4 linked regions of the Homo sapiens genome follow. The protein of the gene in region 3 purifies or fractionates together with the protein of the main gene of each other region. This does not show direct contact. Each region holds a gene or a part of one and is shown on either strand. Other genes may lie near its edges.

The links.
Region 1: the proteins of STX19 (region 3) and ZNF277 purify together in Homo sapiens (affinity purification with mass spectrometry; 3 studies listed by BioGRID and IntAct, with this or other methods). This does not show direct contact.
Region 2: the proteins of STX19 (region 3) and TRIM9 purify together in Homo sapiens (affinity purification with mass spectrometry; 3 studies listed by BioGRID and IntAct, with this or other methods). This does not show direct contact.
Region 4: the proteins of STX19 (region 3) and SULT1A2 purify together in Homo sapiens (affinity purification with mass spectrometry; 3 studies listed by BioGRID and IntAct, with this or other methods). This does not show direct contact.

What each region holds. Positions count from the first base shown.
Region 1 is NC_000007.14:112,285,925-112,294,330, forward strand, and holds part of ZNF277 (zinc finger protein 277), read left to right. Parts: intron 1-948; coding exon 949-1,150; intron 1,151-2,700; exon of another isoform or gene 2,701-3,027; intron 3,028-8,406. UniProt on the Homo sapiens protein: Probable transcription factor. Involved in modulation of cellular senescence; represses transcription of the tumor suppressor gene INK4A/ARF, perhaps acting via the Polycomb group (PcG) complex PRC1.
Region 2 is NC_000014.9:50,974,294-50,981,039, reverse strand, and holds the end of TRIM9 (E3 ubiquitin-protein ligase TRIM9), read left to right. Parts: intron 1-1,490; coding exon 1,491-1,653; coding exon of another isoform or gene 1,654-1,749; exon of another isoform or gene 1,750-3,677; intron 3,678-3,686; coding exon 3,687-3,749; 3' UTR 3,750-5,774; downstream 5,775-6,746. UniProt on the Homo sapiens protein: E3 ubiquitin-protein ligase which ubiquitinates itself in cooperation with an E2 enzyme UBE2D2/UBC4 and serves as a targeting signal for proteasomal degradation.
Region 3 is NC_000003.12:94,013,234-94,019,372, reverse strand, and holds the end of STX19 (syntaxin-19), read left to right. Parts: intron 1-874; exon of another isoform or gene 875-934; intron 935-4,090; 5' UTR 4,091-4,103; coding exon 4,104-4,988; 3' UTR 4,989-5,008; downstream 5,009-6,139. UniProt on the Homo sapiens protein: Plays a role in endosomal trafficking of the epidermal growth factor receptor (EGFR).
Region 4 is NC_000016.10:28,593,038-28,601,665, reverse strand, and holds the start of SULT1A2 (sulfotransferase 1A2), read left to right. Parts: upstream 1-4,615; 5' UTR 4,616-4,669; exon of another isoform or gene 4,670-5,532; intron 5,533-5,700; exon of another isoform or gene 5,701-5,731; 5' UTR 5,732-5,735; coding exon 5,736-5,883; intron 5,884-5,990; coding exon 5,991-6,116; coding exon of another isoform or gene 6,117-6,201; coding exon 6,202-6,299; intron 6,300-8,097; coding exon 8,098-8,224; intron 8,225-8,319; coding exon 8,320-8,414; intron 8,415-8,628. UniProt on the Homo sapiens protein: Sulfotransferase that utilizes 3'-phospho-5'-adenylyl sulfate (PAPS) as sulfonate donor to catalyze the sulfate conjugation of catecholamines, phenolic drugs and neurotransmitters. Is also responsible for the sulfonation and activation of minoxidil.

The sequences.
Region 1 (8,406 bases), on a different chromosome or scaffold from region 3:
TCTTTCTGAAGGTTGCCTGACTTTCTGCAAATGCCAGAGGCCTTACCCTAGTTTCTTTACCCCAGTTTCCTGATTACTAACTACTAAATAGCCTGTATAAGGTGACAGGTGTAGACGTCCACTCTGGCAGACTAAAGGGGGCTACTGTCACGACTGGCTGTGGTTTTAGGCTCTGAAATGAGAGACATAGACTTTACACATACTTCAGCTCTTAAAGATGCTGTAGAAGATGTTAGGAAGAGGAATAATATAGCCAGGAAAAATGTTTACCACATCACATATGTCTAGTGATCGAGCAGTCATCTATTTGTTCACAGAAGCCTGAATTGTAATGCATACTTGTGTAATAGGCAAATGATAAACATAAGTCAACATAGAAAATTGCCATGAGGGCCACCCAGCACATACTGTGTCTACCCAGCGTGAGAGCTTTGTTCTTGTTTGTGACAAATAATCAGAAACAGGAAAGAGTTTGCAGATGCGACAGGAAGCAACTTAACAGACAGGCCTGGCATCATCTGTCGCCTTAATGTATACCATTTATTCCCTTGGTGTGATGATTCTTAGCCATAGGTCACAATTGAGCCTTAGAACCTTAACCCAGAGTGTTGCAGCCTTCCCCCTTGCAAGTACCCCGGGAATTGCTGCCATTGGCCAGTGTCCAAGAAGAAGGCTTGAACAGCTGCCCTGACAAATGGGTTTCCCCCATTCAAGCAAGCAAATGAGGGGTTTGAGCTGCTTTGCAATACTCCCTGCCTCTGGGCTACAAACACTGTTTAAAATGATAATAAAGTATCCTACTCTCCAGCACTATGTATTTTTCTTTTTGGAGACATGTAAATATCTTTAGGATCTTTTTAATGCAGGAGGTGGGAAATCATCCATATGAAGAGTTGGTTTCAGCTTTTCTTTCTTTCTTTTTTTTTTTTTTTTTTTGGTCTATTCCAGACAGTAAGGATTGTATCCTGGAGCCGCTTTCCCTGCCAGAAAGTCCAGGTGGCACCACCACTTTAGAAGGTTCTCCATCTGTGCCTTGTATTTTCTGTGAAGAACATTTTCCTGTGGCTGAACAAGACAAACTTCTGAAGCACATGATTATTGAGCATAAGATTGTCATAGCTGATGTCAAGTTGGTTGCTGATTTCCAAAGGTAAGTTCTGTTTTTGTCCTTAAAAGAATTAAATTTGACCATGTGTGGTGGCTCATGTCTGTAATCCTAGTACTTTGGGAGGCCAAAGTGGGAGGATCACCCGAGGCCAGTAGTAGTTCAAGATGCCAGCTCTAAAAACAAAATTTAAAAATTATCTAGGATCAATGGCATGCACCTGTAGTTCCAGCTACTTGGGAGGTTGAGGCAGGAGGGCTGCTTGCACCCATGAGTTCGAGGCTGCAGTGAGTTATGGTTATACCATTGCACTCCAGCCTGGGTGACAGAATGAGACCCTGTCTCTTAAGAAAGAGAATTAAATGTATTGTTTGTTAAAGGAGTGACATAATCTATATATAAAATAATTCCCATACAAATATGAAAATTCATATTCATTTTCAGGTTTCTCCTTAGACTTAAAAAAAAAAACTTTACAACTCTTTTGTACTTCTGAGACTTTTTTTTTTTTTTTGAGATGGAGTTTTGCTATTGTCACCCAGGCTGGAGTGCAGTGGCACGATCTCAGCTTGTTGCAACTTCTGCCTCCCATGTTCAAGCGATTCTCCTGCCTCAGCCTCCTGAGTAGCTGGGATTACAGGCACCTGCCACCACGCCCAGCTAATTTTTGTATTCTTAGTAGAGATGGGGTTTCACCATGTTGGCCAGGCCTGTCTCGAACTCCTGAGCTCAGGTGATCTGCCCACCTCAGCCTCCCACAGTGCTGGGATTACAGGCATGAGCCACTGCACCCAGCCAACTTCTCAGACTTTAAAAAAATCTTTACATTATTTTTCTTGAGTCTGTAAGTTTGAGAATGTCACATACTAATTTATTTTCTATAAGTTCTCTAAAGAGATGAACTTTCCAAAGAGTAGATAATACTCACTTTGCAGCATTCCATGACATTGTAGATCTTATTGATGTCTCCCAGATTATGTCTCATGTTTTAGGCCATAGACATTCTCTGAGTGGGTCCTTCCAGTAATTCCAGAATAGACTTGGCAACAGGACACTCAAAAGGCAGTGTTTGGGAATGGGATCCTTGGAGACTTTCAAGCCAAAAGGATATTGCCCAAACAAATCTCAGTTTAAATGTTGTGATGAGGTTGATTCCTTTTTTCCCAATTTATAATTTCTGGAAGTAGTTGTCCAAGAGAAATACCTTCCCTGTATAGTTACTGAAAGCATAAAATTTGGTGTATCTGGTAAGGTCCCATTTTGAGGTATTCTGTCCTGATTTCCCCATAAAACATTGTAGTAGCCCAGACATTGAATACCCCTGCATCTAAACTCTGTTTCTCCCAGGCCATATAAAACATTCCTAGCAAACAGCTTCTTTCTTATGATAGGTCTTGCAAAAGAGCAAGCTGTATTATTAAGAGCTGACTATGAAAGTAGGAAAGCCTGGGGTTGAGTGCAGGCTTTCACACTTCCTAATCTTGTGATTTCCTGCCAAGCTACCTAACTACTCTAAGCATTGATTTTCTCATCTATAAAATGGGGGTAACACCAGCCCTCATGGTTATTGAATATTACATAAAACAAAGTATGGAATGTGAGGGCGATCTGGCTGTGACATCTGTCACCCCATTAATCGCCAGGGTTGATTCGGCTGATCTGGCTGGCTAAGTGGCTGTCCCCTTCCTCCCTCACCACTCCATGTTCATGCCTCCCAAAGCTGTGTTCTCAGTCAAAGAGGACAACCATCTCCACTAGAAGAGGACCAGTCTTTGGTCAAGGGTATACGAGTAGCTGCGCTTCCCTGCTGGAACCTCCAGACAAGCTCTCAAGTCCATTTGTAGGAGAACATAGGGTAGTCAAGCTTCCAAGATTCCAGACACATCCAAATGAAGTGCTGCATGTGGCAGTCTGCCTTTCTTAAAAAAAAAAAAAAAAAAAAAAAAAAAAGAAGAGTATGTGTAGCATCTGCTAGTGCCTGAGACATGTGTACCTGATAAATGGTAGATAAAATGCAAAATTTTATTTGTATTTTTATCACCGAAGGTATATTTGAAATCTTAGTTTTCTGCAGCTATCGTTTGAGTTTTCCATTTGTATTTATGCTAATCTAAAAACCTAATTATCATTTGTAAAATATAGCTTTTGAGAAAATTTCATTCAAGTTTCTAAATAATCTAAATTTTTGGAAAGATAGTTTAAGTTGGAATAGCCAGCATACCCACAGGGGTAATGATAACTATTCTCTAGCCTTCATCTCTGTCCTTATTGCCTAGCACCAATACTGAATATTTACCATGTGCCTTCTGTGTATGTTGCCTTATATCGACTCAGCACTACTATTTTTCAAGAGATTTTGGTGCTGCCTTATCAGGTCTCAGAGATAGGAGGACAGTTAATTGAATGATATATATTGCCAACTGCTAAAATAAACTAATTCCCTACATGCTCTCATAGGACATACTCTCTGCTCCTCATTATCATTTGTTATTCTTTATTCTCATTAAAATATATGTGTGTGTATGTCTTTATTCTCAGAGTATTCTGGGAGCTTTCTTATATGCAACCCAGTTATATGTGGTGAGATCTGTTGATTTTGTTTCAGACACTTCTTAGGCTAGAGATCTTCTAATTCATACTCAACCATTGAAAGAAATACTACATAGGTTATTCTTTCCTAAGGCTTCTATTAGTCAGCTTTTCTTTAATATGAAACCTTTATTTTTCTTTTTGAGTCCTGGCTGGAGTGCAGTGGCACGACCTTGGCTCAGTACAACCTCCACCTCCCTGGCTCAAGCAATCCTTCCACCTCAGCCTCCCCAAGTAGCTGGGACTACAGGCATGCACCACTACGCCTGGCTAATTTTTTTTTTTTCTTATACTTTAAGTTTTAGGGTACATGTGCACATTGTGCAGGTTAGTTACACACGTATACATGTGCCATGCTGGTGCGCTGCACCTAATTTTTTATGTTTTTAAATTTTTATGGTTTCACCATGTTGCCCAGGCTGGTCTAGAACTCCTGGGCTCAAGCAATCCACCCACCTCGGCCTCCTGAAGTGTTGGGATTACAGGTGTGAGCCACCGTGCCTAGCCATGAAACTGTTCTTTTATTCCCTTTTATCATATAAACACAAATTTTCCTTCAGGAATTGCAGAAGAACAGTATTAACTACCAGTGATAATTGAATAGTTTAAGATTTTTCTTTCTCCTCTGCCCGTAAAGTATGTGAGGAATGTCTGAATCAGAGTTTGTATTCTCCTTTGTGCTTATGTGTCATAGTTAAGTAGCTATATTTGTACTAATCAATCTCTCTATTTGTATCATTGTTATTAATCTCATTATCCTAATATGCATACGTGGGCAGAAAAATTGAATTATTTACTAGGTCTCGGGACTTAGGAGTCAGTAATTAAATGCTGGGATTATTCATGCTCTAAATGCAGATATACAATAAAATGGATGCTTTAATTAAAAAGAAAAGGATGCATATCTGATATAAGTGCTTTCTAAAGTGTATCTTTAACATGTATTTGAAATATGGAAACCTAGATTTTCCTTGTCAACTGTCCTTCTAATTAAGTAAAATTTTCACTCTCAGCAAGTATAAATGTGATTAATTCTGATTGATCAGGCATGTATCTGAGTAAACTCTGTTGCTTTTAAATACCTTTGACTGTATCCAGTCTTCTTTAGATAATAACCTCCTACTACTTAAGGAAACTAAAAATTCCTCTCCCAAACAATCCAGGTATTGATTGTTATGATCAAAGTTAAGTTGGAATCTTTTCAACATCATGTAACTTGTTTCTAATTTTAGAAGACAAGGTATAAGGTGTAGGGTTGGGAGGAGGGAACATGAGAGATTTATTTGGCATGAACACATTCACTCAGAACTCAAGAGGAATTGTTGCTTCTGAGTACAATAGATAATGAAGATGATAATAAATAAGAGATGGACTTACCTTGTGGTTTACAAGAAGTAAGCTATAAGTTTTCATACTAAATATATAATTTTTTATGAAACAAAATAACACTAAAACTTCCTGGGGCAGGAGAAATAAAAACAAAAATAAAAATCTTTCCATTGAGTCCATTTAACATAGTTATTTATACTGAGCTATTTGCTAGCTTTATTCAGTAGATAAAATTGCTCTGGAAAATAAATGTTAACTTCTTATTTCTTACCCTTTTCTATATTAAATTCCACACATTCACTGCTACTTAATTAACAACCATATTTCAAACCTTTATGACTATGTCAATAACCATACCAATTACAGTGAGGGTGGGCAGGCAAGATATTGCAACAAGGATTTTTTGTGAGACAATTCTGTGAGACATGATTTGAAGTTCCTTTGGAAGAAAAAAAGTATTTGCTGATGACCTAGTAATTACTTTTATAGATTTTTAATGAAGTATGAAATACTTTGATAACTCATCCAAATAGAGTTCCTACCACATGTTATTTCTTAGTGGCCTTTATATATTGAGTAGCTGCAATTGTAGCTTTCAGTAAACTAGAGAAGTAGGAAAAATACAGAAGAGAAGTACTAAATGAGCTCTTAAATTTGAACAGTGTTCTAGTGAGTGGGAAAAAATGCCACAAGAAGCATGTACTGAAGATCTGCTATCTTTATTCTATCACTCAGTTGATTACAATTTATCTGAATGCCCATACCATCCGAAAGGAAATGTATATATTGACACCTCTTAATTATAAGCTTAAAAACCACTATTATGTGTTTAATAACTAGGATGTTTCTTTACTCAAATTTAGACATAGGTCAAATGTATGTTGTTGTTGTTGTCTATAGTATACCACAGTAAGATATGATGCCTAATTTTATATGTTTAAGTTGTATGATGGTTTATGGTTATATTTTGCTTTGTAACAGATGATTTTTTTTTCTTTGATGTTGTTGTCACCCAAGTTTTGGTTAGGAAGAGAACACTCAAATGACAACTTTGTTCCTCTTGGACCAACCTATTACCTGCTTTATCCCATGGGAAACACTTCCTATTTGAGGAGGGCAACCGAGGTTCTGCCAGGCAGAATCTCCCCATGATTCTAAGTTAATTGATGTCAGTAATTTCTTCCCATGTGCATATCACCTTGAAGTAAACTCTGATGGAAAGTAAGCATGTCATGTGATTCTTCTCTTCAGACATCAAAGAGACAGTACTCAAACATAGAAGTTTTTGGAAACTGAGACCCACTGACTATTGGAATCAGGCTCCTGTTACCTCTGTAGTGGAACTTCTCTGCACCCTTTCCTTGCCTAGTTAAGCAGTTCCAAAACAGCCCCAAACAGTTGGTGTCAATTTTCAGCCCTTAGGTAGCAACTTAGGAGCAGTTCAGACTGAGGGCTACTGTTAAGTAGTATGCCTTTCGGAAGGGGAAAACATTCTCTTCCTCTTCAGACTTCATTTCTGTACTTCTGGTTCTGCCTTGTCAAAAAGCATTCTATGTGACCTCATTGGTCTCTGAGGGGAAAAAAATGCTTCAACTCTCTATTACAACTTTAATTATAGGGGCTCTTTCCTGTCCCTGCCTTCCCTTTTCTGCATTTCTTGTACCGATTCGTCCCCACATGACACTAGAGGAACTGTGTTGTAGAAGATTGAGTTTGGCCTTGGAGCCAGAGAGACAAAGTTCACATCTCAATTCTAACATTTTAATTGACCTTGGGCAAGTAAGGACTCATTAAATGGTAGCTGCTAATAATTGTCATTATTGTCACTATCATCATTCTTCTCTTCTACCACTTTAGCCACCTATATGTGCCCTCTGACGCTATTAATATAACTATTTTGTCTTTTTCATCAAATGTTTGCTGAAATGTTGTTGTTGTTTTTGTTGTGTGTCTCATTATTTCCCTGGGATAAATATAAATTATTCACTACCTTAGTCTTATTTAAATATGTTACTTTTTCTTATAGTAATAACTGTCATATATATTAAACACCCAGAATTTTGGACAGCGTGCTTTACATGCATTATTCTATTTAATTATCAACAATTTATTTTGCACATGAATAAACTGAGTTTCAGAAAGATTAAATAACTTTAAGTTCAGGTTCATACCTTTGAATTCAAAGTCCTTGCTTCTCTATTCACCATTGCCTCCGGGGTGGTAATTAATACATTAACTATGATACTTTGACCACTGTCTTAATTTAAAAAGCAAAACTGCTTCTAGCATAAGATCTGTGCAGATAAGCAAGGGACAATATTGATTGTCCATTTAAAAAAAAGTCATTGGCCAGGCACAGTGGCTCTCACCTGTAATCCCAGCACTTTGGGAGTCCAAGACGGGCAGATTGCTTGAGCTCACAAGTTCAAGACTAGCCTGGGCAACATGGCAAAACCCCATCTCTACAAAAAAAATAGGAAAATTAGTTGGGCATGGTGGTGCGTGCCTATAGTCCCAGCTACTCGGGAGGCTGAGGTGGGGAGGATGTCTTCAGCCCAGGAGGCAGAGGTTGCAGAGAGCTGAGATCACTCCACTGCACTCCAGCCTGGGCAATAGAGCCAGATCTTATCTCAAAAAAAAAAAAAAAAAGTCATTAATAATTCAAAGAGCAGTCTGTTCACGAGGATCCAAGCTCTTGCCTGGTCATCTGTTCCACATGGTTTCACACAGATACTTTTCTAAGACTGTGAACATTTTCCAAAGTAAAGTAGTCTGTGTATTCAAGGAGTTATCACTGCCTTTCAACAGGCTCTAGACCCAAAATGGAACTAATTATATAGGGCTGACCACTAGTCTCCGTTTTGTCTAGAGGATACCATCCAGATAGTCCTCAATGGAGTGGCAACCAGGACTGACGATCCACTCCTTGGTGTATTCTAGCAGTAGCAGTAGGGAACCTCCAGAGGGAACTTGGCCTTCCTGTCTTTTGAAGTCAGTTATCTTAGCACCTGGTTCTGCCATGTATAAATTTGATTAATCATGAAAATAGATGTCTATATTTCAATTTAGAGGAATAATCCATCTTCTGTTCTAACATCTCTAATACAGGTTCTACTGTGTTCCTTCATCCCTGTCACCACTTTGTAATAGAAAATGTGCTTGGGGGAGAATAAGAAAAGGACTAGGAATGTCATTTTTATTCTCTTAAGCCTCCTCTTGTCTTCTCTTTCCCCTTTTTTCCTCTCTACCATGGGGTGGTGGGGAAAGCAACTAGTGAGGAATGGAAAGATAGAGACTAGGAGTAGCCATGTAGGAGACTGAGGAGTACAACGTGTTGAAGCTGGCCCAGGATGGCTAAGGAAATAATGTCCCAGCCTTTTGTA
Region 2 (6,746 bases), on a different chromosome or scaffold from region 3:
TATGCTCCAAGATTTCCCCAGGATACATTCTCATTAGTGTCTCTGAAAAAAAAAAAAAATACAGTAGTGTTCAACCAGATCAAAGGGAAAGCAAGTCAGACATTGGTAGGATAATTGGACCCCACTGTTTTATCTTTTTCTGTATGCTCATCACTGACCCTTCTCCAGCCTGTAGACTCCTAAAGCCTCCTTTTCCCTTGGATAGCTTCTATAGCATTCAAGTGTGTATTATTCGCTGTCACTTGAAGTGAACACACACACCATTTCACCATGAAAGCAAATCCTACTGGATGTAGATAAGTGGTTATCTTCAGTGATCGGCATTTTGTGGAACTCTCTGTCAATAGATTCTCAGTGCTATCACCCAAATGCCACACTTACTTTTTCCCTTTTAGCGTCTTTGTTTTGAAGTGCAGGAGTGAATAATGACATAACCATCACACTATGCAGAGAAACACATTCTTAATGCTGAACACATCTGCTTGCATGCAACCTGCATGTCACTTGTGCTTTCATTGTTAAACCTGTGAAGTAGCAAGAGGCAATTTGTAAACCTGTCTTTTAATGACTATGTACAGTCTGTATCCTGCATGCAAGAGGAAATGAATGACACAAATTCCTGTGCTCTGCTGAGATGAGGACGAAGTTCAATATTGCTAGATCTCAAAAAAATGGGAAAGACAAATCTGATCGTCCATTTTTAATGGCATTTTGTGAAACCATCAATTGAAGCATAAGACACAATTCTTTGTAAAATGGCATTTGTATGCAGGTTCTTTAAAATCACTACATCTCAGAGTATAATTATTTCACTGTACAGAGAAGAAGCCTCTTCTTCAGTGCTGTCATTTCACAGACAGCCTCCAAGTTCTTAATTCAAATGCAACAAGCCAAAAAACTGCTATCCTTCTGGAATGAGTTTTTCTGTTTAATGGATAACATAAGGCCCCAAATCCAATTTCTCATGCATGTGGTTTAGGTGCAACAAAAGTGCTTCTTATTTTGACTTTCAAATTAAGTCACTTTGTATTTAATGATATTTAATTCACACCATTTATACAAAGTGTGCAATATTCCTAGAGTCAGAGCTCTGATAGCCCAAAGGCGACTTTTTCCTAGTCTTTAATGTTTGGTTTTCTACTGCTGTGACTCAGTGGTAGAGACCCTAATGAATGAGTTCACTCTCAGCAACAGCAGAGCAACTCACAAGGGCAGATATCTCCCCCTAGGAAGTGAAAATTGATGGTGGCAGGGAGGGAGCAAAAAATCATACTCTTGTTATGTATAAAACACAGATATACACACAGTACCAACAGGTATACAGTATATCTGCGGTATTAAAATTTATGTGCAAGGGATGATTAGGGAAACGGTTTTGGGGTAGTGATGATTATAAACAGGTTGCAAGACACTGGTTTCACCACACAAAAGGGGGGAGCTTCTAGAGTGACCACAAGGAAATGAACCCCAATTTTTCTCTTTTCCTACAGAACTGAGGGAGGGATCACAAAAGGGGCCACAATTGGGGTCCTCCTCGACTTAAATAGAAAAAACTTGACATTTTTTATCAACGATGAACAACAAGGTCCCATAGCATTTGATAACGTGGAGGGCCTCTTCTTCCCTGCGGTCAGCCTGAACAGGAACGTGCAGGTAAGCACCCTGCCCCTGAGGTTAAACAGCTGTTGCTGGCTACCGGTTCAAAGGCTGCCCAGGGCCGTTCAATCCAACCGAAGAGAGGGAAGCTGACAGCGTAAGGCCCAGACCAAGATATGAAGGAGAGGAGGAGAGAAAGGGATCAGCACTGGCAACTTATTTTATTCCACGCCAAGCATAAGCACCTTCTTTATACTTGGACGCAGACTAGTTAATAGCACATAGGAAACTAGAATTCTCTTCATGGTTGGCTAATGATCATCTCTGTAGCTCTAGTTTCACCTCTAAATAGAAACGAAAGCCTTTAACCAACTGGCATGAAAACAAATAGAATGACTTAACAAAGCTCAGGAGTGCCTGAGAAGAGGTGAGGGTGTAAGACTGAAGCATTAGTATCATTATCAGAAAATCTGAGCATCTTCTCTGCACTCTTGTTTGGCTCTGTTAGGTCCTAAGGGGTAGAAAACATAGTCCCTACCTACAACTTAGTCAATTATTATTTATTATAGAATAAAACAACAGCTTCTCATTTATTCATTCAGCAAATATCTATAGAATGCCTTTAATGTGCCAGGCACAGTTATAAGTGTCTGGGATACATCAGTGAAAAAAAAAAACAAAAAAACAGATAAAAATCTTGCCTTCATAGAACTTACATCTTAGTGATAGGAGACAGACAATAAATAATAAGCATAATTACAATGTTAATCAGATGGTGTGTCAGAAGGTGTTTAGTGCAGTGGAGAAAAGACCAAGGGCCCATGAGTGGTGTGGTTGGGAAGGGCAGCCACAGTATTGCGTAGGTAGGGCTTATCGCAGTTACCGGTGAGCTGAGCCTTAAAGGAGTGAGGGAGTGAGTTGCGTGGAGCCTTCCAGACAGAGGGAACAGCCTGTGCACAGTTTCTAAGGCATGAGGGGCCTTGCATGGGCAAGGAATGGTGGAGAGACTCTTGGGCTGGGGCCTGGAAGGGGGACCAGAGCCATGCATGGGGGAAGAGCTGTGCCCTGCCAGCCGCTGTCAGGACTTAGGGTTTCACTTCCCTCCTGAGCTGGGCATCTCATTAACAACTATGAGCCTCATTCCACAAATGGTTGTCTTGAGATAAGGCTTGAGAATTACAGGTGACTTTTGCCCTATCCAGAACCAGCCTTGGAAACTATTTATCAAAATTCATTGTTGTGTTTCAGTATGTGCAGTAACATTGATTGCAAACTAGCAGCCCCTGCCCTTCTCCCTGCAAGGAGATGGGGTTTTCTAGAAGGCTGGAATCTAATCTTTCAGAGTTCAGCCTCTACACTTTAAGAAAGAAAACCATAAATTACCCTAGAAGCGAGTCTCAGAAAAACCCCATTCAAGGTTTTTCACATTAGCCATTTCCCTTTCAAAGAATATTATACTAGATGCTCTTCAGGGGTTTTCAGGACCTTCTGATTATCTATTGATAAAGACTCTTGGGCTGGAGAAGACAGGGATAAGAACTGCATGAAATGGTTCTAGTTTTATCCATAGCTATCCATTGAGGTTTGGGGATACACGGAAATTGGTAAAATAGTATAATGCCATGTTTTTTCACAACTGGCAATCATCTATGCGACCCCAGAAAGAAATGTTTGCCCTAATTACAATAACTAGTGGACAAGTAATAAGGGAAGTGCTGTCTCTGCGAATCTGTCCTCTATCCATGGATTTGGCAGTGGTCACTGTGGTGTGGCCAGTAGGCTCCTCTATCTGAAAACCAAGGCCTGTGTCTTCAGTTATAAGGAACACAATCTCCCCGGAATCCTTTAAAAGAGGCAGGTGACTAAGAACCATATAATCAAATGTCACCAGGATTTGAGAGCCCACCATGGTGAGCAGCCTGTTACCATAGGCAGGATTCTTCTTGAATTCCGTTTAATGCCTGCTAGCCTAGATGTTTAAAGCGAAGCAAACAGAACACTTTTTGAGTTAGGGACACACCCACGGTACACTGTGTAAAGGGACAGGGGGATGCACGATGCCTCTCAGGACTCACAGTCTCATTCCCCAGGTCACGCTGCACACCGGGCTCCCAGTCCCCGACTTCTACTCCAGCAGAGCATCAATAGCCTAAGGATGTGCCGTGGAGGCGCCAGCTGCCTGTTCTTACCTCCGCCTGCGAGAGCCACAGCAAGGAGCTCAGCCAGCCGTGGTGGGGTGCAGAGTTGGCAGGAGTGGGAGAAGGAGGAGAGAAAAGCTGGTCCTCTGCAGTCTTTACACCCACAGCTCTGCCCTTTTCCCTTTCAACCTCTCCTCCGCTGTCATGCCTGCTTCCGCTTCCATGTCCAACAATTCTAACCAACAAAGGACCTAGACAGCCCACCAAGTCACTTGGTTCCCACTCCCAGATTTTGCTTTTATTTAACTTAATTTTTTATGTAGGTGAGTTATATTTTCTTTCTTTTCTGATCAGGTTATTGGTGACTTACTGGACTGGCACCGCCAGGAGAAAATTCTCCTGCTAACTTTTTTTCTTAAGCTTTCTGTCAAACAATGAGGTTGTAGGGGGAGGTAGGGAAGAATGAGCTGAATTTGTAGCATACAGCTTACCTGCTAGAATGTTCTTACCCTCTTACCTCTCCTGTAGCGTTAGCTCTGCAGAGCTAAGCTTTGGGAGAATGAATCTATCACTGAGAAGTTTTACTACTCATTGAAGCACAAAAATATCCGCTACACAGGTTCACATCAGGGTAGGATCGTTAGGATGGCTCTATAATTAGGATAGGCCAGAACCCTGGCCACTGTATAAAATTGGAAAGTCTCTAAGACACAGGCAAACCAGGGGACTTAATGATTTGGTTCGTTTATTTAATAAAAGCTTTTAATTGAGAACCTACTATTGACCAGGCACTGTTCAAGACACTAGAACATTATGTTCTAGACACTGTGGGGACACAGTGGTGAACAGACAGGCATGGTCTCTGCCCTTCGGAGCTTATATTCCAGTAGGAGAAAAAGCAAAAATAAAATAATTATAAATGGTCATATGTACTAGAAAGGAAATGGGCAAGGGTCAAAGAGACTCATGGGCAAGATCTTTCAGGCTTCCTAGAATGATGCTAAAAATCCACACATTCTGGCCATAGCACCAGAAATGTACCAACTCAATGCCTTTTCAGCTGCACTATTTAATTATGGTACCTGCTGCCACTCATCACAGAGCCCTTCTTGGTAGAAATGATGTCAGCATTCTTATTTGCTGATGCTGCTATGATACCACGCCTTAAAAATTGACAGTTGAAAAAAAAAAGAGTGACCAGAGGGCAAAGGACCCATTCTCAGTAATGGGAGATCTTGAGTTGCAGTCCACAGCATTCACATTCTCAGGATAAACATGCTTGTCTCCATATATACTATCTGTGCCTGTTATGAATGAAAAATCCATCCACTCTGCTGCCATTCACAGCCTAATTTTCTGGAGTAGTCCAAACAATGTTTGGAAAAACATGGGACTGTATGTCATTACTATGACTGATAGCAGAATAATAATGCATCTTACTTCTATATAGAGATAGACTTACATAGGTTACCCTTGAAATTCATTAGTTTGTCATAAAGTTTTAGGAAAGGTAGGACCCGGAAAGAAGTTCTAATTAGTTGTCTAAATATTTTTCAGTGAGCCAAGAAATTCACCATGAAAAAACAAGAATAACAAATAGAAGGGAAGAGATAGGATGGGAAAGCTAACAAATTAAAGTTTTGGCAAAAAGGAATATATGTAAATAGCTAATTATTTACTTTTGTGCTTACTTTATTTAGATTATTTCTATCAGTTACAATCTTTTTCTAGTTAAGTGTACCTAATTTATGGAATGGGTGCTATCCTGTTTATGTGTGTCTTGGTTTTTCTTGGCTACAGAAAAACTGTTGCAGGGCAACACTAGTTTGATATTTGATTTACTCTCCAATGAGACTCAATGGCTGGGCCGTGGTAGACTCATAGTTCCTCTTGTTCTTTATTAAATTCATCCTGCTAATTAGATTTCTAGTGACTTGTAACATGTAGTTTACACTGAATTGCAATTACAGATGCATACAACTACTATACTAGAAAAAATTGTCATTTCTGATGTGCCAATAAATGATTTTTATGAGAGAATAAAATGTCTCTAGAATTTCTTAGTTTTTATCTATTGCGGATGACAATTCACCTTTGTCAGAGCGATGTTTCTTCAGGAAGATCTCATTGGAAAGGCCCCCAGAGCTCTGGAGAGCATGTGTTCTTTCCCCTGTTTCCTTGGGCATGTGGCACTGCCTTTTGGTTTTACTCATATGAAATTTAACCTGATGTGAAATGTCCAGTGGAGATGTCTGGGGTCTGCTTCCAAGTATTGGGGATTTACTTCTGTTTTTTTTTTTTTTTTTTAGACGGAATCTCACTCTGTCACCAGGCTGGAGTGCAGTGGCGCAATGTTGGCCCAGTGCAATCTCCCCTCCTGGGTTCAAGCAATTCTCCTGCCTCAGCCTCCCGGGTAGCTGGGACTACAGGCACACACCACCACGCCCAGCTAATTTTTTTGTATTTTTATTAGAGACGGGGTTTCACCATGTTGGCCAGGATGGTCTTGATCTCTTGACCTTGTGATCCACCCGTCTCGGCCTCCCAAAGTGCTGGGATTACAGGCGTGAGCCTGGCCTACTTTATTTTTAAAAAGCCACACATTTGGCTTGCAATTTTATAGTACTGCAAAACAGAGTGTCACTGACTTTTTCAAACCTAGCTCCTTTAACATTTCTTTGAATGGCAAAACAATAATTACAACATTATTCATCTACCTAACATTGTTGTTAGCCACTAAAAAAACACTTTGTTTCTTGATTAAAGGAAAAACATTACCTACAAATATATGGTCTGAGTTATAACCTCACAGAGTGGAATAGTACACAGTTGGTAGCTGCTGCTGCTCTCCGTTGATTCCAGTTTCTACACATTCCTCTTTCTGTCACGGGATCCTTGGGGTGTCACTTCTCCAGCCAAAAACCTCTGTGGCTGGCAGCGCCTTCTGCCTGAGTACTGCCTGCACCTACTGGGCTCATTCTGCCCACTCGGCCTGGCAGGCTGCACTCGGCT
Region 3 (6,139 bases):
ATACAAAAATTAGCCAGGCATGGTGGCATGTGCCTGTAGTCCCAGCTACTCGGGAGGCTGAGGCAGAAGAATCGATTGAACCTGGGAGATGGAGGGTGCAGTGAGCCAAGATTGTGCCACTGCACTCCAGCCTAGGCAACAGAGGGAGACTCTGTCTCAAAAATAAAAAATTAACAAAAATAACAGGGACTTGAACCAGGGAGATGGTAAGAGGTGGCTAGATCCAAATACATTTTGAAAGAGATGTTGACAAGATTTGCTGTGCTTGCATATGAAATGTAGAAAAAAAAAGTCAAGAATGACTTCCAGCCAGGCGCGGTGGCTCACAGCTGTAATCCCAGCACTTTGGGAGGCCGAAGAGGGCGGATCGCCTGAGATCAGGAGTTTGCGACCAGCCTGGCCAACATGGTGAAACCCTGTCGTTAATAAAAATACAAAAATTAGCTGGGCGTGGTGGCACATGCCTGTAGTCCCAGCCACTCGGGAGGCTGAGGCAGGAGAATTGCTTGAACCCGGACGGCGGAGGTTGCAGTGAGCCGAGACCACACCACTGCACTCCGGCCTAGGGGACAGAGTGAGACTCGGTCTCAAAAAACAAACAAAAAAAGACTTCTGAGTCTCTGGTCTGAGCAACTGGAAAAATAGAGTTGCCAGAAGAGAGATGGGGCAGTTTACGGGTTCACAGGAAGATTATGAGCTCATTTTGGATAGAGGCATTCAAATGCAGCTGTCAGGTAGGCAGTTTTTTAAGAGCAACCTAAACTGGAGATACAAATTTGGGTCATCAGCTTACAAACAGCATTTAATGCCATGAGACTAAAAAATGATGATGGATAAAAATGAGACTCAGTCTAAAATCTTCCAATATTTACAGGTGGGGGAGATAAGGAGTAGCCAGGAAAAAGAAAATAGTGATAAAGGAAGAGCCAAAAAGGTAAGAGAAAAAAAACAGGAGAAATACTTTTCTTCAAAGTGTCTCAAGAAATGATTGTGTTAAGTGCTGATGGGTTAAAATCATCAAGTCCTATTGCTTCTAGTTTCAAAAATATATCCTGATGGTTCCCATTTACTCCATCTCTATCATTAAAGTCTCTTCTGTGAACTACTCCCACCCCCTCCCCAGGAAACTATTCTCTATATAGAAAGCAACAACATCTTTTAAAAATATAAATCAGGGCCAGGCATGGTGGCTTATGCCTGTAATCTTAGCACTCTGGGAGGACAAGGCGAACAGATGGCTTGAGCCCAGGAGTTCAAGACCGGCCTGGACAACATAGGGACACCCCTGTATCAGTTTAAAATTTTTTTAAATTACATATCAAAATGAAAAAATATATACAAATCATGTCAATATCCTATTTATCTTTTAACTGTCTTCTACTGCACCTAGAATAAAATCTAAACTCCTTCCTTTGGCCCACAAGTCCTTTATGATGTGGTCCATGCCTACCTTTCTACTTCATTCTTCCCATGTTACTCCTCTCATTCCTTTCTATCTACATTCACTTTGTTCTTATGCAATAACTCTGTTCCTAAAACATATCAGTCTCATTCACTGCCTTGGCAACCCAACTCCTAGACCTACAATACACTCCCTCGGCTCTTCATCTGCCTGGCTTCTCAACATTCAGTCTCACATCTCAAATATCTGCTTAGAGACCCTGCCTGATTATTGTATCAAAACCTAAAATTATCCCGTTTATCTTTTAAATTGTATATTGTCCTTCTCACCCTAAATTATAAATTCCTCAAGGACAGAAAATGTTAAATATATATTACAGCATTTAAAACTTATATACATATAAGACTTCAATGACTATTTCACAAAATACCAGTCCTTTAAAACCAAAGGAATATTACCAGGACATTGGTTTAACCTTTTACCCAAAACAGGCATCATTTCTGTAACATGCCTGCCTGGAGTCATCATTCCAGAACATCTTGAAAATGTCCAGTGATGGCAAACTCAGCACCTCATGAAGCAGCTCATTTCATCTTGGGAAAGCAATATTTGTTTGAAAAGTCTTCTTTATATTGAATCAAACCTCTTTCCATGTAATTTCCACCCACTGCCCTTTGGAGTTATGCCAAGTAAGTCTAATCTCACTTGCATACACAGACCTTTGTTTAGAAGACAGCTGTATACACACCCTACATCTTCTCTTTTACAGGACAAATATTACCATTTATTTCAATGAGTCTCCATTTGGTATGGTTTTCCAATCTCATCCTTTCCATGCTAGTCTGGTAATTCCTAACTTAAGAACTTCCATCTCAAAATATGCTCAGAAGTTTATTGAGTTCCCCTTACCCTTGCAATTTGCTCTGAATAGCATAGAGTTGGCAGAGTTTAGTCTATCCATACATCAGACTATTATTTATAAAAGCATAGTGACTATTCTGATGGTTCTGACAGAAAGCTTAATTAGGCTGGGAGCGGTGGCTCACACCTGTAATCCCAGCACTTTGGGAGGCCAAGGTGGGCGGATCACGAGGTCAGGAGTTTGAGACCAGCCTGGCCAATATGGTGAAACCCTGTCTCTACCAAAAATACAAAAATTAGCCGGGCATGGTGGCAGGCACCTGTAATCCCAGCTACTCAGGAGGCTGAGGCAGGAGAATCACTTAAACCCGGGAGGCAGAAGTTGCAGTGAGCTGAGGTCGCACCACTGCATGCCAGCCGGGGCATCAGAGCAAGACTCCATCTCCAAAAAAAAAAAAAAGAAAGCTTAATTAATTAAAATCTCCAATACTTTCATAGACACTATTGTGAACCCAAGGGTCTTCTACTCTGTAGATACGAAAATATTTTTCTTATAGCTAGATGAAATATTTTAAATCTATTCCTGTTAAATATATTTTTGTTATTTTTAGTATAAAGTTCCACACTATTTTAATATTTGAATCCCTACCCTGTACTTCAACATACTAAAGATTCCTCCAAATTTTACACCATCTACACATTTGTTAAGTATGCCTCCTATGACAACATCCAGATTAATAGAAATATTTCCATAAACATATCAAACACTGAGTCCTACAGCATAACAGCATCACATTCAGAGACCTTTTTTTTCTGGTTGATATTAATATTATATGTGGTCCAATGAGCTATCTGTACTCCCTAACAGCCTCTTCTTATCTTCAAAAATGTCTTGAAAGACATTTCTAAAATCAAGTTGCTCTGTGATAATAGCATTTTACTGCTTTTTATTCCCTTCATTTTATATGTATGTATGTCATTTCATATATATCTATATCATTAAATATAAATTATGTACATCAATTTGATTCTTACAGATAACTACCAACACAGCATGTGATAAGTGTCAATATCATTATTACTCCTAAAATAAGATTGTATATAAATATATTCTCATGTTTATAAAAGTATCACCTAACACAAATTGATATAAATTTTGTTCTAAGACAGTCTGGATATCTTTGCAAAAGAATGCTAAGAATGAGAAATCAGCATAATCAAACCAATGTTTTCACATATATGCAACAGCTAGAAAAAACATTATGCCAAGTAATACGTTAATTCAGAGGCTTCGGAAAATTTAAAATAAATTCAATATTATCCATATAGCTTAACGTTCTCATATAAAATCTGTACTGTCACTACAATGGTTTTAACTGAATGATGCATATTTAGCAAAATGAGTATTTTTTAATATTACATTGGCCAAATTAACCGGAAACAGTATCTTTAGTAACAAGGGCATTTTTGGCATCTGAAGACTAATCCTATAGGTTGAAGGTATAGTCAAAAGCATTCTTTATTACAAAAAAAAACTATCATGTGACAAATATTTTTGACCAACTGTGTCTGCATCACTGCTTTCTCAGCTATTGCACACAACTAAATAGCACTCACATGCAAAGTAACTTACAAATTATTTTATATTTCTTTCCCTATTTAAATGGTTTTTATGAGGAAACTCATTGGTTTTTTCTAACTTTTTAACCTCATTTGAGAAAACTAGGAGAACTTTTGCTGGGATATAGACAGTTATGTGAAGTCAACTGCTACTGGGGAAAAATACCAAATTTCTACTTGTTCAACACAAAAATTTTTGCTTCTTAGGAGGAAAGGGAAGATGAAAGACCGACTTCAAGAACTAAAGCAGAGAACAAAGGAAATTGAACTCTCTAGAGACAGTCATGTATCAACTACAGAAACAGAGGAACAAGGGGTGTTTCTACAGCAAGCTGTTATTTATGAAAGAGAGCCTGTAGCTGAGAGACACCTACATGAAATCCAAAAACTACAGGAAAGTATTAACAATTTGGCAGATAATGTTCAAAAATTTGGGCAGCAACAGAAAAGTCTGGTGGCTTCAATGAGAAGGTTTAGTCTACTTAAGAGAGAGTCTACCATTACAAAGGAGATAAAAATTCAGGCAGAATACATCAACAGAAGTTTGAATGATTTAGTTAAAGAAGTTAAAAAGTCAGAGGTTGAAAATGGTCCATCTTCAGTGGTCACAAGGATACTTAAATCTCAGCATGCTGCAATGTTCCGCCATTTTCAGCAAATCATGTTTATATACAATGACACAATAGCAGCAAAGCAAGAGAAGTGCAAGACATTTATTTTACGTCAGCTTGAAGTTGCTGGAAAAGAGATGTCTGAAGAAGATGTAAATGATATGCTTCATCAAGGAAAATGGGAAGTTTTTAATGAAAGCTTACTTACAGAAATCAATATCACTAAAGCACAACTTTCAGAGATTGAACAGAGACACAAGGAACTTGTTAATTTGGAGAACCAAATAAAGGATTTAAGGGATCTTTTCATTCAGATATCTCTTTTAGTAGAGGAACAAGGAGAGAGCATCAACAATATTGAAATGACAGTGAATAGTACAAAAGAGTATGTTAACAATACTAAAGAGAAATTTGGACTAGCTGTAAAATACAAAAAAAGAAATCCTTGCAGAGTACTGTGTTGTTGGTGCTGTCCATGCTGTAGCTCAAAATAAAGAAGCTATTTTAAAACTTTTTCCAGCTTTACGGTAAAAGATAGCTTATATTTCAGTGTCTTGTATTGTTTTTCTCCATCTCATGGATCCACTCACATACCTTTCATCACTGTTAAGTTGTAATTTTCCCCTTTAACCCTAACCCACTAAAATTTCAGAAACTTCTGTAGCCAGTTACATAAAACACACTTTTATTTAATTAAAGTACAAAAAAATACAGTTACCATCAACTCACAAATTAACTATTGAAAATGAGATGCATAATCTTAGTCTTCTGGTCAGGTATCAAGCTCTATATTATACATTTCTCTCATGTGTTAAGTAGTAATGACTACCTAGGCAATCCATTTGGCTGACTGGAGAATATTTTAATAGTTAAGAATCATGCTACAATAAAGCTAAACCAAACTAGAACCTTTATCAAATCTTTTCTCTTTTGAGACAGAGTTTCACTCTGTCACCCAGGCTGGAGTGCAGTGGCATGATCCTGGCTCACTGCAATCTCCACCTCCCAGTTTCAAGCGATTCTTGTGCCTTAGCCTCCTGAGTAGCTGGGATTACAGGTGTGCACCACCACACTCGGTTAATTTTTGTATTTTTAGTAGAGGGGGTGGTTTTGCTATGTTGGCGAGGCTGGTCTCAAATTCCTGACCTCCAGTGATCCGCCCCCCTGGGCCTCCCAAAGTGTTGGAATTACAGGTGTGAGCCACCATGCCCAGCCCTTTATCAAATCTTTTATCCTCAGAAGGTAACTTAACTCAATGTCAACAGATCAGGGAAAACTCAACTATGTACTTGAAGAATCTAATTTGTAACTGGGAGCTGAATCTAGCTTAAGGAATAAGAAGATGAGTTAAGGTATTGCTTTCTTGAACTTGGGTCCATACAGGGCAATGTATTACAGACTGGCAGATAAAGTCAAATTAAAGGCAACTGTATTCTTGAATATTTTGCCATGACTTTAAGATAATGCTATACTATACTATAAGCTAGAGATACAGTCTAAATTCACACAACACGGGAATAGAGTTTTGCAACTCACATTCTAATGGAGAAAGCAGATAAATACAAATATTAGATAATGTTAAGTTCTGGGCAGAGACTTAAAAGGGCAATGAAATGAGACAGAGACTGTCAAGGGGTGCTTCTTT
Region 4 (8,628 bases), on a different chromosome or scaffold from region 3:
CACTTGAGGTCAGGAGTTCGAGACCAGCCTGACCAACATGGTGAAACCCCGTCTGTAATAGAAATACAAAAATTAGTCGGGCATGGTGGCACGTGCCTGTAATTACAGCTACTCGAAAGGCTGAGGCGGGAGAATTGCTTGAAAGATGGGGCAGGGGGCAGCGGCAGAGGTTGCAGTGAGCCAAATCGGGCCATTGCACTCCTGGTGAGACCGGAAGGGTCTCTGTGCCAGGAGGAAGGCTTCCTGGAGGAGGCGGACCCCGCTGGGCACAAGCCTGATGAGAGGGAGGGGCATGCCTGTGACATGGGTGGGGAGTCCAGGGTGGGGACGGGACTGTCACAGAGGAGGAGCATGACGGGGAGACAGTGCCCTGGGAATCTTGGCGGTGGAACTCCGGGGAGGAGCTGGCTGGGGCGGAGGTGATGATCCAGGATGCGGGCCAGCGTAGGGGTCTTGGTGGGCATGCTGGGGTCGGATGGAGCGCAGGAGGGAGAGGAGGGGGGACAGGTGGGTACCTGGGCTGGAGGCGCGGCCTGAGGTGGGCAGGTTCAGGGGGCGTGACTTCATTTAGGGGCAGGGCCTGGGGCTAGGCTGAAGCCGGCAGTGAGGACCCCGCTCTCGGGTGGAATTGGAGGGGACCCGCGGTTGGGCGCGGCAGGGCTCACAGGGACACCCCCGTTCTCCTCCCCAGGGAGAAAGTGCTCGTCGTGCACGGCTTCCCGCCCGCCGTGGCAACCCTTCGGGTAAGGAAGGAGACCAGGCGGCGGCAGGCGGGCAAGGGCTTGGGGTCCGCCCCCCTGCCTGGAGCCGCCCTAACTCCTCCGTATCCTGCCGCTGTTGGAGTGGGCCTGGAACCCCCTCCATAGGCGCGCCTCCTACTCCCGCTGCACCCCGACCTCCGCCGGGACCTCTATGCGCCGCGCCGCACGGGCGATGGCCTTCGGGCCTCCCCGGCCCCAGGGCACCGCGCAGGTCCCTTTGCTGGCACCAAGCCCGAGCCTGAGCCGGACCCGGGGCCCAAGAGGCCTGTGCGCCCTGCGAGCCCTTGAGCTCCAGGGGAGGTCCGCCCCAGGCAGGGCGGCTCATCCCCCAGACCACTTCGGATCCAGCTGTTTGTTGAGGAGCCAGGAAACGCCCTGACACTTTTGCGGCCCTGTCCCCGTCTCTAAGATGGGGATGATAGTATTTCTGGCCATTCCTGAGCACAGCAGGACCTGCCTTTTCCCTTTGACTGGAAGGTTCTTCTCTACACCTATCTTGATAACCTGCCACCTCCACAGGGAGGTCTTCTCTATCTCCCGATTTAAAATTGCAGCTCTGAGAAGCCGGGCATGGTGGCATATGCCTGTAGTCCCAGCTACGGGGGGAGGCTGAGGTGGGAGGATCGCTTGGTCCCAGGAGTTGGAGGCTGCAGTGAGCTCTGATCGCTCCACTGCACTATAGCCTGGGCAAAAGAGCAAGAAACTGTCTCTAAAAATATAAAATAAAATTGCACCTCTTGTGTACTTCCCCGTCTGCTTCTTTACCTGAATACTTACTATCTCACCGGCTAGGTGCTTTATGACTCTCGTTAGTCTCTCCCACCCCAACCTTTGCACTACATTGCCCGAGGGCAGCTCTTGTCACTGCTGTAGAACAAAGTCCTGCACAGAGACGATAGCCAAGAAATAGTTAATAAAATAATGGAAAACGGGTGCCTTCTACTGAGCACCCGCTAATAGTGAGTGAGTAGAGGACTTGCCCTGGGGACATTCAGTGACCTGCTGGGTGTTGCTGAGCTGTGAGGAAGTTCAGGTCTGGCTGCAGTGGTGAGGCTGTGACTCAATCAATCACTGCTGATGCTCCCAGGACCTGCACCAGCTTAGTCCCAGGGGCAAGGATTTTAAACCCCCACCTCCATTTCCTCATCTGTAAGATGCAAATAACAGTCACCTCTGCCTCACGGGATGGAGCTGTGTAATGCCCGGAACAGTGCCTGCTGCATAGAGGGGTTGCTGCCAGCTGCCTCTCCCTCCTTGTCTCTTACCTGCCTGCTGCCTGGGACAGGATGAAGCGGGGCCCTTGTGTTGCCCCAACCCTGGCTGTTGGCTAAGAGCCCACGTGATCTGCCTGTGAGAGGAGTTCCTTCCGGAAGAACCAGGGCAGCTTCTGCCCCTAGAGGGCCAATGCCCTAGCTGAGTGCAGTCCCCCGGCCCCAGCCTGGTCCAGCTTTGGGAAGAGGGTGCCCAGTTGTGCAATCCAGGCCGGGGCAGCCGTGTCCTGATCTTGGTATTCAGGGCTGAGCCTGGAGGGGGCTTGTGATGCCTGACTCTGTCTCTCTCTCTGGCCCCATGCCTTGGTAGCTGTGAGGCGTCACTGCTTTGGGTGACCTGATCTGGCTGTGATGGATGAGCACGGGGGAAATAGTGGAAGACTCGGAATTAGAAGACGTGAGTGGGCTTTGGCCCCAGCCTCCCTACCCCACTCCCTGTCCTGGGCTGCCTGTGACCAACCTTGTTTCTGCAGGCACACTGGATAGCCCTGCTGGAGCTCAGTGTCCCTAATCCCCTCCAGATACTGGTGGCCTAGGGGAGGTCATCAAAGACCGGTGGGACATCGACCTCAGCCCGTTTCCACGCTTTTTTTTGTTTTGTTTTGTTTTTTTGAGACCGAGTTTCACTCTTGTTGCCCAGGCTGGAGTGCAATGGCGTGATCTTGGCTCACCGCAACCTCCGCCTCCCGGGTTCAAGCGATTCTCCTGCCTCAGCCTCCCAAGTAGCTGGGATTACAGGCGTGTGCCACCAGGCTTGACTAATTTTCTATTTTTAGTAGAGACAAGGTTTCTCCATGTTGGTCAGGCTGGTCTCAAACTCCCGACTTCAGGTGGTCTGCCTGCCTCGGCCTCCCAAAGTGCTGGGATTACAGGAGTGAGCCACCGTGCCAGGCCTTCTCCAGGCTCTTGGCACCTTAGCCAGAAACAATTTAAGGACAAGTGCAAAAGTCATGAACGTAGGCAGATTTCCTGCAGAGTAAAGGGACTCACTGAAGAAGAGGAACGTGGGGGTCCTCAAGAGAGTGTCTCATGCCCTACAAGGTGTGGGGCTGACCTTTATGGGCTTCTTCAACTAAAGAGGGGTATATTCATGAAGATTCCAGGAAAAGGTAAAGATTTCTCAAGACCGTGGTGCCACAATTTACACCCAAATACAGGTGTTCCTGGAGCCGTCTTGGCACTGGTGGGTGTACGGTTTCATATGTTACTGATTGTACAGTGAGATCCTAGGTGAAACCTACATCAAATACAGCGCCATGTTGCTTCTGGTTGGTCGCAGCCAGCTTGGTCCTCATCCTATTTTTCAGGGACTTATTGGCCCTTGGCACATGCAGCTATTTCAAGTTTCCTTCTTCTGGTCATGTGAAACTGCTGCCTGGGATTTTCTGTTGTCTTGCTAGCACTCTATTAATCTCACATTCTCGCCTCTTTTCTGTGCCACCCCCTGCTGGTCCGGCTGGTTTTCACTAGAGTGCAATACAAAGTCTCAGTCAAGAGGGCCTCCTGAAGGTTGCTGAGGGCAGGGGTGGAGCTAGTAGCCGGAGGACCTGCCAGTCATGGGGATTCCTCAGGGGCACAGAGGAGGGAGGAGGGGCCTGTGGCCCTAGCAGGGGAGCAGCCTCTCCTCTGCCTGGAAATCCCATGCCTCAGTTTTCCCCGCTTGCCTCTGAGCTCACGCAACCCTGGGAAGGCTTGGGAGACTCACCTTTACTCAGATGGTTGTTTACCTGTCTCGTGCCCAGCTTGACCCTGGACTTTAAATAGTGAGGACAAAGAACGAGGAGGGTGGGGGGATGCACTCCTTCCACGGGGCCCTGTGGCTTCCAAGCCTCAACCTCCTCTGGCCTCTGTCTGTGGAGCCTCCTTCAAACCCATGGAAAGAAAAGTACCTGCCAGGGGCTGTGGTTCTTCTAGGATCTTCTATCGATGTTCTGTGAGGTCCCCAGGGAGCCATGAAGCTGGGGCTGGCTCCCAGGGCAATGGGACTGCAGTGTCCTTGTTCTTTCTTGTTCTATGGATCCATGCTCTGCTCCACCCCTGCCCCTTCACTCTGCCCACACGCATCACTCCAGACTGGCCTTGTGGTCAGAGCCTGGAGTGCATGGGCTGCTGGAGGCCTGTGGGTTGCACTGGGCCAGGACCCCTGGCACCTTCAAGACTGGCCTGGAGCCAGCAGGTAGGTGACCTTTCCAGGGCCTGCCTATCCCATCTTTCTCCTCCAATCCCTCCCCTCTCTTGCCTGGGTCAATTAGAGAAAGCTTGTCTTTTGGAGTTCAGGGGCAGGTCAGGAGCCCAGTGACAGCTCAAAAAAAAAAACCCACAAAAACAAACCCACCATTGGGCCCTTTCCCCTTTCATTCTTCTGTTTTCTACACACCAAACCCAGTCGTGGCTTTGGAGATCACTTTAAGCTTGTCTCCAGCTGGCAAACTAAGGAGGGTAATAGAGAAGCTCCCCCACCCCCAACCCTACCCCTTCCTTCCGGAAGCAAATCTAAGTCCAGCCCCGGCTCCAGATCCCTCCCACACTGACCTAAGAAACCCTCAGCACAGACAACACCCCTGCATTCCCCACACAACACCCACACTCAGCCACTGCGGGCGAGGAGGGCACAAGGCCAGGTTCCCAAGAGCTCAGGTGAGTGACACACCGGAATGGCCCAGGACGCCCTCACCCTGCTCAGCTTGTGGCTCCAACATTCCAGAAGCCGAGGCCTCTGCTATCCCTGCCCTCTCCCCATGGATATCCCATTTCAGACAACCCCGGCCGGCCTGAATCCCCCTCCCTTCCTTTTTTTTTTTTCCGGGGAGGCCAGGTCTTGCTGTCACCGAGGCTGGAGTGCTGTGGGATCCTGGCCACTGCAGCCTTGAATTCCTGGGCTCAAGTGATTCTCCTGCCTCAGTAGCTAGGACTACAGACCCTCACCATCCTGCCTGGATAGTTTTAAAAAATATTTTTAAAAGATTTTTAGAGATGGGGTCTTCCAATGCTGCCCAGATTGGTCTCCAAATTCTGGCCTCAGCCTCCCTAGGGTCTGGGATTACAGGTGGGAGCCACCCTGCCCAGGATCCTCCTTTTGCTGAGTCATCACAGTTTTGCTCATTCCCACATCAGGCTCTGGCCCCCAATACCAGCTCAGTTGCTCAATGGGCTGTTTGTCCTGGAGCCCAGATGGACTGTGGCCGGGCAAGTGGATCACAGGCCTGGCCAGCCTAGGAGTTGCCACATGTGAGGGGCCGAGGGGCTCAAGGAGGGGAACATCGGGGAGAGGAGCCTACTGGGTGGAGGCTGGGGGTCCCAGCAGGAAATGGTGAGACAAAGGGCGCTGGCTGGCAGGAAGACAGCACAGGAAGGTCCTAGAGGTTCCTCAGTGCAGCTGGACTCTCCTGGAGACCTTCACACACCCTGACATCTGGGCCCCGCGCCACGAGGGTGCTTTCACTGGTCTGCACCATGGCCCAGGCCCTGGGATTTTGAACAGCTCCGCAGGTGAATGAAAGGTGAGGCCAGGCTGGGGAACCACCACATTAGAGCCCGACCTGGTTTTCAGCCCCAGCCCCGCCACTGACTGGCCTTGTGAGTGCGGGCAAGTCACTCAGCCTCCCTAGGCCTCAGTGACTTCCCTGAAAGCAAGAATTCCACTTTCTTGCTGTTGTGATGGTGGTAAGGGAACGGGCCTGGCTCTGGCCCCTGACGCAGGAACATGGAGCTGATCCAGGACATCTCTCGCCCGCCACTGGAGTACGTGAAGGGGGTCCCGCTCATCAAGTACTTTGCAGAGGCACTGGGGCCCCTGCAGAGCTTCCAGGCCCGGCCTGATGACCTGCTCATCAGCACCTACCCCAAGTCCGGTAGGTGAGGAGGGCCACCCACCCTCTCCCAGGTGGCAGTCCCCACCTTGGCCAGCGAGGTCATGCTCACCTCAGCCTGCTCACCTCCCATCTCCCTCCCTCTCCAGGCACCACCTGGGTGAGCCAGATTCTGGACATGATCTACCAGGGCGGTGACCTGGAAAAGTGTCACCGAGCTCCCATCTTCATGCGGGTGCCCTTCCTTGAGTTCAAAGTCCCAGGGATTCCCTCAGGTGTGTGTGTCCTGGGTGCAAGGGGAGTGGAGGAAGACAGGGCTGGGGCTTCAGCTCACCAGACCTTCCCTGACCCACTGCTCAGGGATGGAGACTCTGAAAAACACACCAGCCCCACGACTCCTGAAGACACACCTGCCCCTGGCTCTGCTCCCCCAGACTCTGTTGGATCAGAAGGTCAAGGTGAGACTGGGCACAGTGGTTCACACCCGCAATCTCAGTACTTTGGGAGGCTGAGGTGGGAAGATCCCTTGAAGCCAGAAGTTCCAGATAAGTCTCTTCCAAAAAAAAAACTTAGCTGTGCATAGTGGTGTGTGCCTGTAATACCAGCTACTCAGGAGGCTGAGGTGGGAGGATCATCTGAGCCTAGGAGTTTAAGGCTACAGTGAGCTATGATCACACCAGTGCACTCCAGGCTGGGTGACAGAGAAACACTGTCTCAAAAAACGATGAATAGAAAGAGTGTCCCACCAGTGCGGTGGCTCACACCTGTAATTCCAGCACTTGAAGAGGCTGAGGCAGGTGGATCACCTGAGACTAGGAGTTTGAGATCAGCCTGGCCAACATGGCAAAACCCCATCTCTACTAAAAATACAAAAAAATTAGCCGGGCATGGTGGCAGGCATCTGTAATCCCAGCTACTTGGGAGGCTGAAGCAGGAGAATTGCTTGAAGCTGGGAGGCAGAGGTTGTAGTCAGCCGAGACCTCACCATTGCACTGCAGCCTGGGAAACAAGAGCAAAACTCTGTCTCAAAAAAAAAAAAAAAAAAAAAAAAAAAGCGGCAGGTGGCAGGGGGCTGGGCCTGTTGTGGCTCACGCCTGTAATACCAGCACTTTCGGAGGTCGAGGTGGGCAGATCACCCAAGGTTAGGAGTTTGAGATCAGCCTGGCCAACATGGAGAAACCCCGTCTCTACTAAAAATACAAAAATTAGCCAGGCGTTGGGGCAGGCGCCAGTAATCCCAGCTACTCGGGAGGCTGAGGCAGGAGAATAGCTTGCACCTGGGAGGCGGTGGTTGCAGTGAGCCGAGATTGTGCCACTGCACTCCAGCCTGGGAGACACAACGAGACATTGTTTCAAACAAAACAAATAAATATTTTAAAAGGTTTGCCACCTGGGTGGCTCACCGCTGTAATGCCAGCATTTTGGGAGGCCAAGATGGGTGGACCGCTTGAGCTCAGGAGTTCCAGACCAGCCCAGGAAACATGGGGAGACTCCATCTCTATAAAAGATGCAAATAATCAGCAGGGCATGGTGGCATAGCGCTATAGTCCCAGCTACTCAAAAGTCTAAGGTTGGAGGATTGCTTGAGCCTGGGAGGTCAACGTTGCAGTGAGCTATTCTCACTCCAGTGCACTCCAACCTGGGCAACAGGAAAAAAGAAAGCCCAAGGTCTTTTTTCTCTTTTCTCTTTTTTTTGAGACCTAGAGTCCCCCCCCCCAAAAAAAAAAAAAAACCACAACAAAAAGAAAAAAGCAAAGGTCCAGGTGTGGGGCATGTGAATCCAGGGAAGGAGGCCCCGGCTCAGCCCAGCTTTGGTCCTGTTCTTCTGGGAGAGTCGCCTCACTTCCTCCAGACTTGTCTCATCTTCCACGGGGGGGACTGTCTGCCTTTTGCTCTGATGACCAAAAACATGAGACTCTTCCGGGTAGACCTAAGAAAGGTAGAGGGTGGGTCCTCACAGGCCCACAAAATTTGGTGGTGGTGGGAACATGCCTGGTGGAGCATGCCTTGCTCCAGATCGGGGTGTGACGCATTGATGCAGATTATATTACTATAGAATATGATGGTCTCAGGGACCAGGCAGGACTTTGGCTTTTGAGCAGGGTTCAGATCCTGACTTGGCCCTACCTGTGCCGTGAGATCTCAAACAAGTCAGCCTCTAAGCCTCAGCTTCCTCCTTTGCCAAACCAAGAGATGAGCTGGCCTGGGGCAGGCTGTGTGGTGATGGTGCTGGGGTTGAGTCTTCTGCCCCTGCAGGTGGTCTATGTTGCCCGCAACGCAAAGGATGTGGCGGTTTCCTACTACCACTTCTACCACATGGCCAAAGTGTACCCTCACCCTGGGACCTGGGAAAGCTTCCTGGAGAAGTTCATGGCTGGAGAAGGTGGGCTTGATGGGAGGAAGGAAGGTGTGGAGCTAAGGGGTGGTGGCTACAACGCACAGCAACCCTGTGTCGGCACTCCCTGCCCGCTTCTCCAGTGTCCTATGGGTCCTGGTACCAGCACGTGCAAGAGTGGTGGGAGCTGAGCCGCACCCACCCTGTTCTCTACCTCTTCTATGAAGACATGAAGGAGGTGAGACCGCCTTTGATGCTTCCCTCCACGTGACACCTGGGGGCAGGCACTTCACAGGGACCTGCCAAGGCCACCCAGCCACCCTCCCTGGGCGGCCCCTCCAGCAGGCCCGGATTCCCCATCTTGACTCCCTGGCCCAGGCCCCACTGCAGCCCCATGTGGCAGCAGGCTGGGCACAGCTCTCATCTCCTGTGCCTGAGTCAGCTGCACGGGT